Regions from separate parts of the Homo sapiens genome. Here region 1 is linked to region 2. The links come from fine-mapping of genetic effects on gene expression. Tissue or cell type: blood mononuclear cells. Region 2 holds a variant in brackets; the other region holds the start of a gene. All regions are shown on one strand. Distances are from middle to middle. Region 1 holds the start of MAGEE1 (MAGE family member E1). Region 2 has its middle 34 kb from the start of MAGEE1.

Region 1 (8,351 bases), 33 kb before region 2:
CTATATTCTTTTCTAGATAATGCAACAAGATGGAAAGATTTCCAAAACATTTTATAGAGCTATCAAAACTCATACCAAAATACAACAGAGACAGCAAGTGGTCAATCACATTTACCCAATCAGACAATATATTAAAACAGTTGAAACATTTCCAGACACCACACCAGAACTAAATATGAAAAGACATAAATATAACTGGAACACAAATACCAAATACAATATGTACCCACCCCCACCCCCCAATACATGAGAACTGAGGCTCAAAGGCCCCTCCTTGCAAGGCCCCTCTGACTGCCATGCATTCCTCTACCTGAAGTTGTGAACAAAGATTTGCCTGTGCCCAACATCAGCTCTATTGGCCTCATCTTCCATTGCCTCCCTGTACTGCTGTGGCCAGTCCTGTGGTTCCTTTCTGTGGATTCTGGCCACATATCGCAAGGCTTTCATCTTAGAGGTTTCCAAACGGGCTCTAGGACCCCATACAAACTCATATTGCACTGGATCACTGTCAGGAACCCGTAAACTGTCTATATAGCGCTGACTCAAGTATCTGCAGGTAATCACATGCTTTCTCCCAGCTTGAACCCCTAAGCCCCGCAGAAAGGCCCAGACTGCAGACTCCCTGGCATGGTTGCCCATAATAAAGATGAAGCTTAGGACCTGCATCAAAAAGTTGTTGCCAGGCCTGTTTGGACTGTCTACGATCTCCTCAGTTTCTTCCATCTCCCTTCGGTTGTACAGAGTATAGGAGTGATTCCTGGGATCAAGTACCACTAGTTCTGTCCCATAGACATGGTTCAGGGTGCGGGCAGCACGATTCAGGAGGTCAGGGAACACTTTGCTGCACTCTCGGCCAATGTAGTACAGAATTCCTTTCTTTGGTATAGGCAGCTTAGTTGAATCCATAAGCAGAAATAACTGCACCAGCTTCCTTGCCTTGCTCTCCAATCTTGACTCAGGCCATGAATGTGGGGCATATTTTGAGGAATAGCTGGAAACCTCTGAATCAGGGGATGGTACCTCTGCAGCAGCTTCCTCAAAAAAGGGCCTCCTAAAGTGAGGGAGAGCCTGCCAACCCTCAGCAAAGGCTCTGGCAGCATCTTCTTCCAGAGCTTCGTTGTATTTCTCTGGCCAATCCATAGGATCTTTGTTATATATTTTCGCCATGAACTTCAGAATTTTCATCTTGGTGGTTTCTAGGTGGGATCTTGGGCCCCAGAAAAACTCATACTCCACTGGTTTACAGTCAGTTACTGGCCTGTAGTCTAAGTAACGCTGCCATACAAACTCCACAGACAGAAGTCTCTTTGGGTTCCCAAAAATGGAAAGCCTCCTTTCCCGCTGCACCCCCATCCTCCAGAGCATTTCCCAAATCTCAGCCTCCTTGGCTTGGTTGCCATTCAGGAATATTTGGCCTAGAATCATCATCAGGAGGCCCATCTTTGGCCCATTTGGGCTCTCTTCTAACCCTTCAAAGGGCACAGGTCCCAGTTTGTTTAACAGAATGTAGGTGTGTGCCTCAGGGTCAAGTTCTCTCAATTCAAACCTAAAAATGCACTCCAGGTGGGCTGCTGCTCGCCTGAGTATCTCAGGAAACTGGTTGCGATATTCTTTAACAATATATTCCCGCATTTCAGACTCCCGGATAGGGTACTTGCTCTGATCCTTCACCAGCAGGAACTGCAACAGCTCAGCTACGTTCTGTTCCATAGGGTCTTGGGGCTTCAGGGTAATTGCAACCCGGGAAGTATTGAGGCCCATAATACTAATGGAGTTGGGGCTCTCACAGTCTCTCAGGACCTCGAATTCTATAGGGCCTTCTGCACCCTTAGGACCCTCAGAATCTGAGTCCACGGAGGCCTTGGTTACCCTAGGGCTTGGCAAAACAAGGGAACACTTGGAGGGGTTCCGGTCCACAGAAGCACTAGAGCTAAACAATGTGCTCGGGCCCTCACCAGGGTTAGGCAGCACGGAGCTTCCCGGTCCGTCAGGGGCGGTGGGCTGCACTAAGGTGCTTGCGCCCTCACCAGGAGTGGGCGGCACGGAGGTGTCCGATCCATCAGAGGCGGTGGGCGGCACAGAGGTGCTCAGTCCCTCACCGGGGATTGGCAGTACGGAAGTGCTTGGTCCCTCACCGGGAGTGGGCGGCACGGAGGTGCTCAACTCCTCAGTGGCGGTGGGCGGCACGGAGGTGCTCAGTCCCCCACCAGGGGTGGGCGGCACGGAGGTGCTCGATCCCTCACCAGCAGTGGGCTGCACGGAGGTGCTCAGGCCCTCGGTGGCGGTGGGGGGCACGGAGGTGCTTGATCCCTTACCGCGGGTGGGCACCAAGGAGATGCTTTGTCCGTCAGAGGCGGCGGGCAGCACGGAGGTGCTCGGTCCCTCACCAGGAGTGGCCGGCACGGAGGTGCTCGGTCCCTCATCACGGGTGGGTGGCACGGGGGTGCTTAGGCCCTCAGTGGCGGTGGGCGGCACGGAGGTGCTCGGTCCCTCATCAGGAGTGGCCTGCACGGAGGTGCTCAGGCCCTCAGTGGCGGCGAGCGGCACGGAGGTGCCTGGTCCCTCACCAGGTGTAGGCAGCACGGAGGTGCTTGGTCCCTCATCAGGGGTGGGCACCACGGAGGTGCTTGGTCCCTCATAGGCTGTGGGCGGCACGGAGGTGCTCGTTCCCTCACCAGGGGTGGGCGGCAGGGAGGTGCTCGGTACCTCAGAGGCGGTGGGCGGCACGGAGGTGCTAGGTTCCTCAGAGGAAGTGGGCGGCCTGGAGGTGTTCCGGCCCTCAGAGGCGGCAAGCGTCACAGAGGTGCACAGCCCCTTAGAGATGGTGGGAGGCCCGGAGGTGCTTAGGCCCTCACTGGGGGTGGGCAGCACGGAGGTGCCAGGTCCCTCAGAGATGGTGGGCTGCCCGGAGGCGCTTGAGGCCTCAGAGATGGTGGGCGGCACAAAGGTGCTTGGGCCCTCAGCGGAGGTGGGCAGAACGGAGGTGCTTGGGCCCTCAGAGGCGCAGAGGCCCTGGAGGATCTGGGAATCGCTGGGACCCTGGGGGACGTCTGAGCCTGGCACATCAGCGGGGAGACCGGGGGCATTAGGGGCCTGCATTTCGCCCCAGCTGCTGTTGTGCGCAGTAGCCTTTGCAACGCGGCGGCGGCGGCGGCGCGAATTCTGGCTTACCAGAGACATGGTCCTGCCCACCGGCGTTGGCGTGTAGGAGCAGACACCGACAGGCCCGCGATCTGGCAGAGAGGACGGGAGGTGTGTAGGTGCCTCGGCACAAAACTGCCGCTAGCGGTAATGATGTTGCTGCTGCTGCCAGAACCAAAGTTCCAAGCAACTGCTGAAGCTGAAATTAGAGGTGGTGAAAAAGGCAGGCACTGGCCAGCAGTGAATGCTAGTCTCACTGTACTCTGCTTCTCACACCCCGCCCTCTGCCGCAGTCCGCGCAGGCGCAGACTGGCTCTGCGGCAAGGCGAAATCGCCCCGCCCCGCCCCTCCCCTGGGCCTGAGAAAGTGGATGCGGTGGTTCTGCACCAAAGGAGAGCACTAGCAGAAGGGAAACTTTGGTAGGGTGAAGCAAGGAGCTTAGAGTAGATGCATTAGGGAGTAAAAATGGAAATAATAATAAATACTTCTCAGATTTAGGGTACGATTGGAGGGCTTCTACACAGAGTGCCAGGCACTTAATAGATTCTCAAAATTGGTAAATATCATTGAGATTTGCAGTTTTCCCGAAGCTGTTTCAAAGAAAATGTGCATTGTCTCTGGAAGGGTAGAACCCCCATCCCTGACCATGTCTCTTCTATCACTTTCTCCATTTATGTGTCTAACTCCTCCCCTAATGTTGTGAGCTAGAAAGAACTCTTTCCTAGAGGGTCTGAATGCCTGAAATTTAGTACCAATTAGGGAGCTTCGAACACGCTTGAAAAGCCCAACATTCCCAGCCCAAACTTTCCCAGTCACCCAGGCTTTAGTGGGAAAGCCACTAAAACTCTTGAAAATTTGTTTAATTCTTTCACTCCACAATCACCTGCTCATTTAATAGAGCTTTTGTGAAAGTCAGTTGAGATACCGAGTGTTAAGGGATGTGTTACCTGCTCTGTTTTGCTCTATTACTCTAGCACTTTTGAGCAGATCCAACCCTGATCCCTTTATTCATTCACTCAACAAACACTGGTCATCTATCCCGAAGTTACAGTTAATCTCTTTGTCATCAAGGAGCACCCGATGTAAAAATGGGAGTCAGAGAAAAAGTAAAGCTAAATTTTCTAGAAGTTTGTAAAGAATGCAGGGGATGGCAGGGTCAGTTCTACCTGTAGATGCAGAAAAGGCTTCATAAAAGAGGAGATGTTTAAAAAGATGAGTGGGTAGATATTTACCAAAAGGACAAGGATGAGAAAATCATTCCAACTGAGAGTAGCACGGCAGCAGTGAGTAAGAAAGAAAACACTGAAGAGGACGGGCAGGCTGTTTTTAGAAGTAGGGGAGAGAGAGAGAGGAAGAGAGATAGAGGGAAAACACTAACTTTCTGACACTCACACAACCACTACAATTCAGCTTACCACTATTGACCCTTTATTGATATGTTTATATCTTGCTGCAAACATTTATTATATGTTGTCTTTCTTTATATCTTCTCAAAAATCTGGGAGTATACTTTTGTCTTTTTTTCTTTTTTTTTATACTTTAAGTTTTGGGGTACATGTGCAGAATGTGCAGATTTGTTACCTAGGTATACACGTGCCATGGTGGTTTGCTGCACCCATCAACCCATCATCTACATTAGGTATTTCTCCTAATGCTATCCCTCCCCTATCTCCCCACCTCTTGACAGGCCCTGGTGTGTGATGTTCCCCTCCCTGTGTCCATGTGTTGTAATTGTTCAATTCCCACTTATGAGTGAGAACGTGTGGTGTTTGGTTTCCTGTTCTTGTGTTAATTTTCTGAGAATGATGGTTTCCAGCTTCATCCATGCCCCTGCAAAGGACATGAACTCATCCTTTTTTATTGCATAGTATTCCATGGTGTATATGTGCCATGTTTTCTTTATCCAGTCTGTCATTGATGGGCATTTGGGTTGGTTCCAATACTTTTTTTTAATACGTCTTTAGGAAAGGGAAAATAACTGGCTACAGTCACAATGTGTCACCATCTCTGTCTCCAATTGGAGAAGCAATCCCTTATATGAATAACCAGTTTCGGTTCTGTGAAGTCCAATGCAGTTTTTATGCCTGGGGCCTATTCAGAATGGGAGGCACAAAAAAACCTAAGATATTTCTAAGCTTTAGCAACAGATATTCCTAACCTAGGGTACAGTGATTTTTAAAGACCCTGAAGTTGTTCAAACCTATAAACTAAAAATTTTTACCTCTAGAAATATATTCTAAAGAAATAATAAGATATATGTGCAAATATTTAGCTAAAATAACTTTTATTATATAATTTGTTCTAGTATAACAGAGCTGAAAACTAAATGAATGTTAAATAACTAAAGAGTATTTGAAGAAATTATGGTACTAAAAATGGAATACCAGTAAGTCATTATAATGATATCAAAGAATTCCATTTCTAATAATGTATAGTTGATTGCAGCAGCCCTGCGGAAAAAAAACCCCAGAAATTTAGGTAAAGAAACCCTTTTATGGCAACAAAGGCTACCAATATAGCATCAGAAACCTATAAAGGCAATGAGGACTTCAAGAGTAATGATCTCAGAAAAAAGGGAAGTGCAAAGAGGTGAGTCTTACATTGTATACAAGTTTGTCACTTAAGGAATTTAATGATTTGTAAGCTGATAATTTGGAATTCTGAACTTACTGAAATAGTACATCAAAAATGAAGGCAAAATAAATACATGTTCAGAAATCAGTGCTGAGTAAATTGATCACCAGTACACCCACACTGAGGAAATACTGAAAGGTTCTCCTCTGAAACTGAAGAGATGCAAGAAGCGAACAGTAATAGAAAGGATAAATATGTGGGTAAACAGACATATTGACAATGTAAAACAATAATAATAATATGTTTTGTGTAATTTATATGTAGAATTAAAATATAGGAAACAAGTGAGTGCAAGAGATTTGGGGACTGATCAAGAAAAATATATACTACCACACGTTTTCAGTAACACACAATGAGTTTTTGTTGTTTGTCTGTTTTAGAATTTCAACTTTTATTTTAGATTCTGGGGATACATACACAGGTTTGTTATATGGGTATATTGCATGATGCTGAGGTTTGGAAAACAGATGATCTCATCACCCAGGTAGTGAGCATAATACTCAACAGTTTTTCAACCCATGACCCCCTTTCTTCTTCCCCCTTCTAATAGTCCTCCAGTGTCTGTTTTTGCCACCTTTATGTTGATGAGTACCCAATCTTTAGCTCCAACTTATAAATGAGAACATATGGTATTTGGTTTTCTGTTTCTGTGTAAATTCGCTTAGGATAATGGCCTTCAGCTGCATCCATGTTGCTGCAAAGGACATTATTTCATTAGTTTTTATGGCTGTGTTGTATTCCATGGTATATATGTACCACATTTTCTTTAGCAAATATCAGTGATAGACACCTAAGTTGACTCCATGTCATTGCTCTTGTTAATAAGGCTGCAAACAACTATGAGTGTATGTGTCTTTTTGGTTGAATGATTTCTTTTCTTCTGGATATATGCCCGATAATGTGATTACTGAATTGAATGGTAGTTGTGTTTTATGTTCTTTGAGAAATCTCCAAACTGCTTTCTATAGTGGTTGAACTATATATAGTGTTTATTATTACTAATTTACATTCCCACCAACAGTGTATAAGCATACGAGTTTCATTTGGTCAACCCTTTGACAGGTTTGCAAGGGCATGGGGTTAATCAAAGTCTGAGATCTTCCAGAGGCTGGTGGGAGGTCACAACCTAGAAAATGAGAGGACAAGCTAACTGGAGAGAGGGAGGGGAATCAAAGAGATGGCTTATACATGTAGCGATGTCTCTCAGCAGCAAGACAGGGAGTTGCTGGGTCAGAGATCTCTGAAGGGCAGCAGTAGGTTAGGGTTTTTATCTCCTGGAGTTTATCCTATCTATAGCTAACAGATGATTGTAGTTTCACAGGGACATGCAAAGAAGGCAGCCTCTAAATGGCTAACAATCTACTTATTGGTCTATATTTAAAACAATTGATGTGTAAAAAATTGAGTTTGGTACTGGCAGAATCAATATATAGAGACTATCTTTGGCTCATGCATATAACAGTCCATCCCCTGGCCCAATGTTGTCTTATAATTAAAATTGTATGTTATTTTGCAGTGCCTAAGTTTCTTGCCAGAAATAAAGGAGACAGAATCCTATAAGGGTACAAACAAGGATTTCAAAACCCTTTCATAGCCAATCTGCCCACGTAATGGAGGAAAGCCAGGGGAATCGATTAGAAAAAGGAGCAGATTTTAATTTGTTCAATTGTTCAGTCAGTAGAGTGACATTATAACCCCTTTGCTACATGTTCCTGTCTATCCATAATGCTAGAATCAGATTGGCAGAAGCAAGTCCAACATGCAGTTAAATTTGTCATTATATGTGTTTCTGTGACTTAAGATATCTGCAGGTTTAGGCAAATGAATGTTCCTCCTTATTTGGATTGGTGTGCCTTGCTTGAGTTTCCGGGTGATTGCCAGTAGTAAATAGCATCAGAATGTTTGCATGGGTCTAGAGTAAGCTTCACAGTATCTCTTGGCAGTTTTTAAAAAGTTATTAATTTATACATGCACCAAATTTGATTCTGAACTGTGGAGTACTCACATATGTGATCCTCAAAGGTAGGGCAAATTATTTCAAAAATAACCATCAATCATATTATAAATTTGGCCTATTTATTTCCCTGTTTATGATGATGTTGTTCTAATTTTAGTGGGAGGCCACCTGTTCCATCATTTTTATTCCAGGGAAACTTTTCTAGGGAGTCCATTTGTATAGCTCGAATAAGTTCAAGGGTGACCTCTTTAGAGGTGGCAATGTGATGTCACCAATAAGTTTCTTCCCAGGTTAGCTTTGATATCAGGCTTCTCATTATTGTTTCTATCTCCTGTATGGTGGGATGTATACTGAAAGATTGAATGTACAAATGGACAATGGTTGGACCATATATAAAAAGTAGAACAGTGACCCGCAACCTTCAACAACTTGCCTAGGAAACCAACCCACTTAACTACAGTAAGCAGCCCAGAGCATTAGCCTGCTATAAGTCAGACTTGTAGGATGTCAAATTTTTATCTTTAGTAACAATTCAAGGAAATAAACAATAATTTCTATAACAATCAGCCCAAAATGGCCAGGACTTGATTAATAACTGACTACCTTCTTAATTCTTGTC
Region 2 (8,351 bases):
ATGGGATTTTTAAAATATTGTTCAATGGATACTGGAGATAGGATGGTCAGCACTGTCAAAAAAGAAAAGCAATGGAGGAAGCACAGGATATAAGGGAGCCAGAAAATGAACAGATGCAACCTGTGACCCTTATTAAAACATTCCAAATTCAATGCAGGGGATAGAACAAAGTGCTTAATAGGCTAAGCTGTTCACGATACTACTAGACACAGAGTATGCCCTTGAGAAACATTCTCCTAAGGTTTATGTTTTGATCAACTCCCGCTTTGCAGCTAATGGGCTAATTATTTGGTCAGGACTTTGGCAAAATCAGGGCTTTAAAAACAGGGCCAAGACATTGGGGGTAGAGAGATGGGAATAAATTTCACCATTGGCTCCCACTCTTCCCATATTTGTGTACCATACCTTGACTCACAACAGACAAGACACAGAGGAGGTGGTATAAAGTGCAAAAAGCCAATAAACTAACAAAACCACCAAAGCAGGTAAATATCTTGAAGGACAGGGTGTTCCTAGAACTTTGATATGAACCCTTCAATGCTTCTACCAGTGGGCACAAGAGACATCAGGGCATTTGGATATGATGGGGTTTAAAAATGGATTAAGAGGAGTGGCTACAGCAAAGAGACATTCACATAAAGCTACCAAGAACTGTACTACACTCGAATAATCTGGACACTAGGCCTACCTTATGGAAAGATAAATTTAAATAGAAGGGTCAATCAAAACTTGGAAAACAATTTCATTGGTTCTCTCTCTGCAAGTGGCAGGAACCATTGAATATGCCTTAGCAATTATGTATACTTCTACAGGCTTTTTATTGGATTACCAATACAAAACACCAACCTCTGCTGATGTTATTGGGTGGTTAACAAAACAGCTTTTATATTCTTTGGGAATAACACAAGTTACACAGTAAAAACAAAGCTTCCACTTCACTGTAAAGCAAGTGCAAATGTAGGCATTACAAAATAACATTGCTGGCCAGGCATGGTGGCTCATGCCTGTAATCCTAGCACTTTGGGAGGCTGAGAACAGAGGATATCTTGAACTAAGGGGTTCAAGACCATCCTGGGCAGCAGGGCAAAACCTTGCCTCTACAAAAATAAACCAGCCAGGCATGGTGGTGTGTACCTGTAGTGCAAGCTATTCCAGTGGTTGAGGTTGGAGGATTGCTTGAGTATGGGAGGCAGAGATTGCAGTGGGCCATGATGGTGCTACTGTACTCTAGTCTAGGTGACAGAGTAAGACAGTATCTCAAAGAAAACAATGCTTAACTTTTTGGCCTACCCTATCTTCCTGGAAACAGTTCACACAGAAAGACATGGGCTTTTATTTATTTAAATGGGTTACACAGAAAGACAATGGGTTTTTTTTTTTTAAAGAGACACAGTTTCTCTCTGTTGCCCAGGCTGGAGTGCAGTTACATTACCACAGATCAGAGTAACCTTGAACTCCAGGGCTCAGGCAATCCTCCCACTTCAGCCTCCTGAGTAGCTGAAATTACAGGTGCATGTTATGTCACCATGCCCAGCTAATTTTTAATACTTTTATAGAGATTAGGTATCACTATGTTGCTCCGGCTTGTCTCAAACTCCTGACATTCCAGCAATCCTCCCACCTTGGTCTCCCAAAGCAGTGGGATTACAGGTATGAGTTACCGTGCTCAGCCTGACATGGGTTTTAAAACAATGGCAATTGAAACAACCTGGAGTGTGGAGCCAAGGTGGCCAAATAGGAACAGCTCCAGTCTACAGCTCCCAGCATGAGCGATGCAGAAGACAGGTGATTTCTGCATTTCCAACTGAGGTACCGGGTTCATCTCACTGGGGAGTGTCGGAAAGTGGGTACAGGACAGTGGGTGCAGTGCACTGAGCATGAGCCGAAGCAGGGCGAGTTATCACCTTACCCGGGAAGCACAAGGGGTCAGGAAATTCCCTTTCCTAGTCAAAGAAAGGGGTGAGAGATGGCACCTGGAAAATCGGGTCACTCCCACCCTAATACTGTGCTTTTCCAATGGTCTTAGCAAATGGCACACCAGGAGATTATATCCCGTGCATGGCTGGGAGGGTCCTACACCCACAGAACCTCAATCATTGCTAGCACAGCAGTCTGAGATCAAACTGGAAGGCGGCAGCAAGGCTGGGGGAGGGGCACCTGCCATTGCAAGGCTTCAATAGGTAAACAAAATAGCTGAGAAGCTCGAACTGGGTGGAGCACACTGCAGCTCAAGGAGGCTTGCCTGCCTCTGTAGACTCCACCTCTGGGGGTAGGGCATAGCCAAATAAAAGGCAGCAGAAACCTCTGCAGACTTAAATGTCCCTGTCTGACAGCAGTGAAGAGAGTAGTGGTTCTCCCAGGACACAGCTGGAGATCTGAGAACGGACAGACTGCCTCTTCAAGTGGGTCCCTGACCCCTGAATAGCCTAACTGGGAGGCATCCCCCAGTAGGGGCAGACTGACACCTCACACGGCTAGGTACTCCTCTGAGACAAAACTTCCAGAGGAATGATCAGGCAGGAACATTTGCTGTTCACCAATATCAGCTGTTCTGCAGCCTCCGCTGGTGATACCCAGGCAAACAGGGTCTAGAGTGGACCTCTGGCAAACTCCAACACACCTGCAGCTGAGGGTTCTGACTGTTAGAAGAAAAACTAACAAACAGAAAGGACATCCACACCAAAACCCCATCTGTACGTCACCATCATCAAAGACCAAAGGTAGATAAAACCACAAAGATGGGGAAAAAACAGAGCACAAAAACTGGAAACTCTAAAAATCGGAACACCTCTCCTCCTCCAAAGGAATGCAGCTCCTCACCAGCAATGGAACAAAGCTGGATGGAGAATGACTGTGACGAGTTGAGAGAAGAAAGCTTCAGATGATCAGACTACTCCAAGCTAAAGGAGGAAGTACAAATCCATGGCAAAGAAGTTAAAAACCTTGAAAAAAAATTAGACGAATGGCTAACTAGAATAACCAATGCAGAGACGTCCTTAAGGGACCTGATGGAGCTGAAAACCATGGCATGAGAACTACATAATGCATGCACAAGCCTCAGTAGATGATTTGATCAACTGGAAGAAAGGGTATCAGTGATGGAAGATGAAATGAATGAAATAAAGTGAGAAGAGTACTTTAGAGAAAAAAGAATAAAAAGAAATGAACAAAGCCTCCAAGAAATATGGGACTACGTGAAAAGACCAAATCTACATCTGACTGGTGTACCTGAAAGTGACGGGGAGAAAGGAACCAACTTGGAAAACACTCTGCAGGATATTACCCAGGAGAACTTCCTCAATCTAACAAGGCAGGCCAACATTCAGATTCAGGAAATACAGAGAATGCCACAAAGATATTCCTCGAGAGGAGCAACTCTGAGACACATAATTGTCAGATTCACCAAAGTTGAAATGAAGGAAAAAATGTTAAGGGCAGCCAGAGAGAAAAGTCGGGTTACCCACAAAGGGAAGTCCATGAGACTAACAGTGGATCTCTCGGCAGAAACTCTACAAGCCAGAAGAGAGTGGGGGCCAATATTCAACATTCTTAAAGAAAAGAATTTTCAACCCAGAATTTCATATCCAGCCAAACTAAGCTTCATAAGTGAAGGAGAAATCAAATACTTTACAGACAAGCAAATGCTGAGAGATTTTGTCACCACCAGGCCTGCCCTAAAAGAGCTCTTGAAGGAAGCACTAAACATGGAAAGGAACAACCGATACCAGAGCAGAAGTGAAGGAAATAGAGACACAAAAACCCTTCAAAAAATCAATGAATCCAGGAGATGGTTTTTTGAAAAGATCAACAACATTGATAGATCACTAGCAAGACTAATAAAGAAGAAAAGAGAGAAGAATCAAATAGACACAATAAAAAATGATAAGGGGGATATCACCAACAATCCCACAGAAATACAAACTACCATCAGAGAATACTATAAACACCTCTATGCAAATAAACTAGAAAATCCACAAGAAATGGATAAATTCCTCGACACACACTCTCCCAAGACTAAACCAGGAAGAAGTTGAATCTCTGAATACAACAATAACAGGCTCTGAAATTGAGGGAATAGTTAATAGCTTACCACCCAAAAACAGTCCAGGACCAGATGGATTCACAGCCGAATTCTACCAGAGGTACAAGGAGGAGCTGGTACCATTCCTTCTGAAATTATTACCATCAATAGAAAAAGAGGGAATCCTCCCTAACTCATTTTATGAG[G/T]CCAGCATCATCCTGATACCAAAGCCTGGAAGAGACACAACAAAAAAAGAGAATTTTAGACCAATATCCCTGATGAACATTGATGCAAAAATCCTCAATAAAATACTGGCAAACCGAATCCAGCAGCACATCAAAAAGCTTATCCACCATGATCAAGTGGGTTTCATCCCTGGGATGCAAGGCTGGTTCAACATACGCAAATCAATAAATGTAATCCAGCATATAAACAGAACCAATGACAAAACCACATAATTATTTCAATAGATGCAGAAAATGCCTTTGAGAAAATTCAACAACCCTTCGTGCTAAAAACTCTCAATAAATAAGGTATTGATGGGATGTATCTCAAAATAATAAGAGCTATCTATGACAAACCCACAGCCAATATCGTACTGAATGGACAAAAACTGGAAGCATTCCCTTTGAAAACTGGCACAAGACAGGGATGCCCTCTCTCACCACTCCTATTCAACATAGTGTTGGATGTTCTGGCCAGGGCAGTCAGGCAGGAGAAGGAAATAAAATGTATTCAATTAGGAAAAGAGGAAGTCAAATTGTCCCTGTTTGCAGATGACATGATTGTATATCTAGCAAACTCCATCGTCTCAACCCAAAGTCTCCTTAAGCTGATAGGCAACTTCAGCAAAGTCTCAGGATACAAAATCAATGTGCAAAAATCACAAGCATTCTTATACACCAATAACAGACAGAGAGCCAAATCATGAGTGAACTCCCATTCACAATTGCTTCAAAGAGAATAAAATACCTAAGAATCCAACTTACAAGGGCTGTGAAGGACCTCTTCAAGGAGAACTACGAACCACTGCTCAATGAAATCAAAGAGGATACAAACAAATGGAAGACCATTCCATGCTCTTGGGTAAGAAGAAATCAATATCATGAAAATGGCCATACTGATCAAGGTAATTTGTAGATTCAGTGCCATCCCCATCAAGCTACCAATTACTTTCTTCACAGAATTGGAAAAAACTAAAGTTCATATGGAACCATAAAAGAGCCCGCATTGCCAAGTCAATCCTAAGCCAAAAGAACAAAGCTGGAGGCATCACGCTACCTGACTTCAAGCTATACTACAGGGCTGCAGTAACCAAAACAACATGGTACTGGAACCAAAACAGAGATATAGACCAATGGAACAGGAAAGAGCCCTCAGAAATAATGCTGCATATCTACAACCATCTGACTTTGACAAACCTGACAAAAACAAGCAATGGGGAAAGGATTCCCTATTTAATAAATGGTGCTGGGAAAACTGGCTAGCCATATGTAGAAAGCTGAAACTGGATCCCTTCCTTACACCTTATAAAAAATGAATTCAAGACGGATTAAAGACTTAAATGTCAGACCTAAAACCATAAAAACCCTAGAAGAAAACCTAAGCAATACCATTCAGGACATAGGCATGGGAAAGGACTTCATGTCTAAAACACCAAAAGCAATGGCAACAAAAGCCAAAATTGATAAGTGGGATCTAATCAAACTAAAGAGCTTCTGCACAGCAAAAGCAACTACCATCAGAGTGAACAGGCAACCTACAGAATGGGAGAAAATTTTTGCAATCTCCTCATCTGAGAAAGGGCTAATATCCAGAATCTACAATGAACTGAAACAAATTTACAAGAAAGAAACAACCCTATCAAAAAGTGGGCAAAGGATATGAACAGACACTTCTCAAAAGAAGACATTTATGCAGCCAAAGGACACATGAAAAACTGCTCATCATCACTGGCCGTCAGACAAATGCAAATCAAAACCACAGTGAGATACCATCTCACACCAGTTAGAAAGGTGGTCATTAAAAAGTCAGGAAACAACAGGTGCTGGAGAGGATGTGGAGAAATAGGAACACTTTTACACTGCTGGTGAGACTGTAAACTAGTTCAACCATTGTTGAAGTCAGTGTGGCGATTCCTCAGGGATCTAGAACTTGAAATACCATTTGACCCAGCCATCCCATTACTGGGTATATACCCAAAGATTATAAAACATGCTGCTATAAAGACACATGCACACCTATGTTTATTGCAGCACCATTCACAATAGCAAAGACTTGGAATGAATCCAAATATCCAACAATGGCAGACTGGATTAAGAAAATGTGGCACATATACACCATGGAATACTATGCAGCCATAAAAAATGATGAGTTCATGTCCTTTGTAGTGACATGGATGAAACTGGAAACCATCATTTTCAGCAAACTATCGTAAGGACAGAAAACCAAACACCGCATGTTCTCACTCATATGTGGGAACTGAACAATGAGGACGCATGGACACAGGAAGGGGAATATCACACACCGGGGCCTGTTGTGAGGTAGGAGGAGAGGGAGGGATAGCATTAGGAGACATACCTAATGTTAAATGACGAGTTAATGGGTGCAGCACACCAACATGGCACAAGTATACATATGTAACTTACCTGCATATTGTGCACCTGTACCCTAGAACCTAAAGCATAATAAAAAAAAGGAAAAAAGAAAATCAGAATTATATCAAGTATCCTCAGACCACAGTAGAATGAAACTGGAAATTAACTTCAAAAGGAACCCTCAAAGCTATACAAATATACAGAAATCAAACAATCTGCCTTTTAATGATATTTTGATCAACAATAAAATCAAAATGGAAATTTAAGAATTCTCTGAAATGCACAAGAACAGTTACACAACTTATCAAAATCTCCAGAATACAGCAAAAGCAATGTTAAGAGAAAAGTTCATTGGATTAAATGCCTATATCAAATAGTCTCAAAGAGTACAAATAGACAATCTAAGCTCACACCTCAAGGAACTAGAGAAACAAGAAAAACCAAACTGAAACCCAGCAGAAGAAAATAAATAACAAAGATCAGGACTACATGAAATTGAAACAAAAAAGATATTACCATAGATAAACGAAAGAAAGAGGGGGTTCCTTCAAAAGATAAACAAAATTGATACGCCATTAGTGAGATTAACCAAGAAAAGAAGAGAGGAGATCCAAATAAGCTCCATTAGAAATAAAATGGAAGATATTACAAATGATACCACAGAAATAGAAAAAATCACCCAAAGCTACTAGGAACACATTTATGCACACAAACTAGAAAACCTAAAAAAGATGAATAAATTCCTGGAAATATGCAACCCTACTTGATTAAGTCAGGCAGAAATAAAATCTCTGAACAGACCAATAACAAGTAGCAGGACTGAAACAGTAATAAAAAAAATTGTAAACAACAAAATCCAAGACCAGATGGATTTACAGCTGAGTTCTATCAGACATTCAAAGAAGAATTGGTACCAGTCTTATAGAAACTATTCCAAAAGATAGAGAAAGAAGGAATCCTATCTATATTATTCTACGAAGTCAGTGTCACCCTAATATCAAAACCAGGAAAGGCCATAAAAAATAAAATGACAGACCACTATCCATGAGAAACATCAATGCAGAAGTCCTCAACAAAATACCAGCTCACCAAATCCAACAGCATATCAAAAAGATAATACATCATGATCAAGTGGGTCTAATACCAGGGATGCAGGGATGGTTTAGCATACTCATGTCAATAAATGTGATACACCACATAAACAAAATTAAAAACAAAAATAACATTATTATGTCTATAGATACTGAAAAAGCATTTGACAAAATCCAGCATCCATTTATGATTAAAACTCTCAGAAAAATCGGCATAAAAGGGACATATCTCAATGTAATAAAAGCCATCTATGACAAACCCATAGCCAATATTATATCGAACAGAGAAATGTTGGAAGCATTCCCCCTGAGAACTGGAACAATGCAAGTATGCCCACTCTCACCACTTCTATTCAACGTAGTACTGGAAGTCCTAGCCAGAATAATCAAACAAGAGAAAGAAATGAAGGACATCCAAATAAATACAGAAGTCAAAATATCGCTGCTCACTGATGATATGATCATATAACTAGAAAACCCTAAAGAGACATTTAAAAAGCTCCTAGAACTGATAAATAAAAATTTCAGGATAAAAAATCAATGTACACAAGTCTGCTATACGCCACCAACGACCAAGCTGTGAATCAAAACAAGAACTCAACCGCTTTACAACAGTTGCAAAAAAAAAAAAAAAAAGTACTT

The links. PIP is the estimated chance that this variant, and not a neighbour inherited with it, causes the effect.
Region 1: MAGEE1 starts here. The variant in region 2 is fine-mapped to the expression of MAGEE1 in blood mononuclear cells (TOPMed, PIP above 0.99).

Annotation. Positions count from the first base shown.
Region 1 is chrX:76,422,760-76,431,110 of GRCh38, reverse strand. It overlaps MAGEE1 (MAGE family member E1), which reads right to left and starts at 3,401. Exons shown (of 1, transcript NM_020932.3): 1 at 1-3,401. The coding sequence starts at 3,180. The coding sequence ends at 307. RefSeq lists enhancers at 2,544-2,673, 3,144-3,353.
Region 2 is chrX:76,389,954-76,398,304 of GRCh38, reverse strand. No RefSeq gene overlaps it. Among named protein-coding and RNA genes, the nearest start is that of MAGEE1, 34 kb to the left of the region's middle. The variant G/T (reference allele first, on the strand shown) is at 4,228.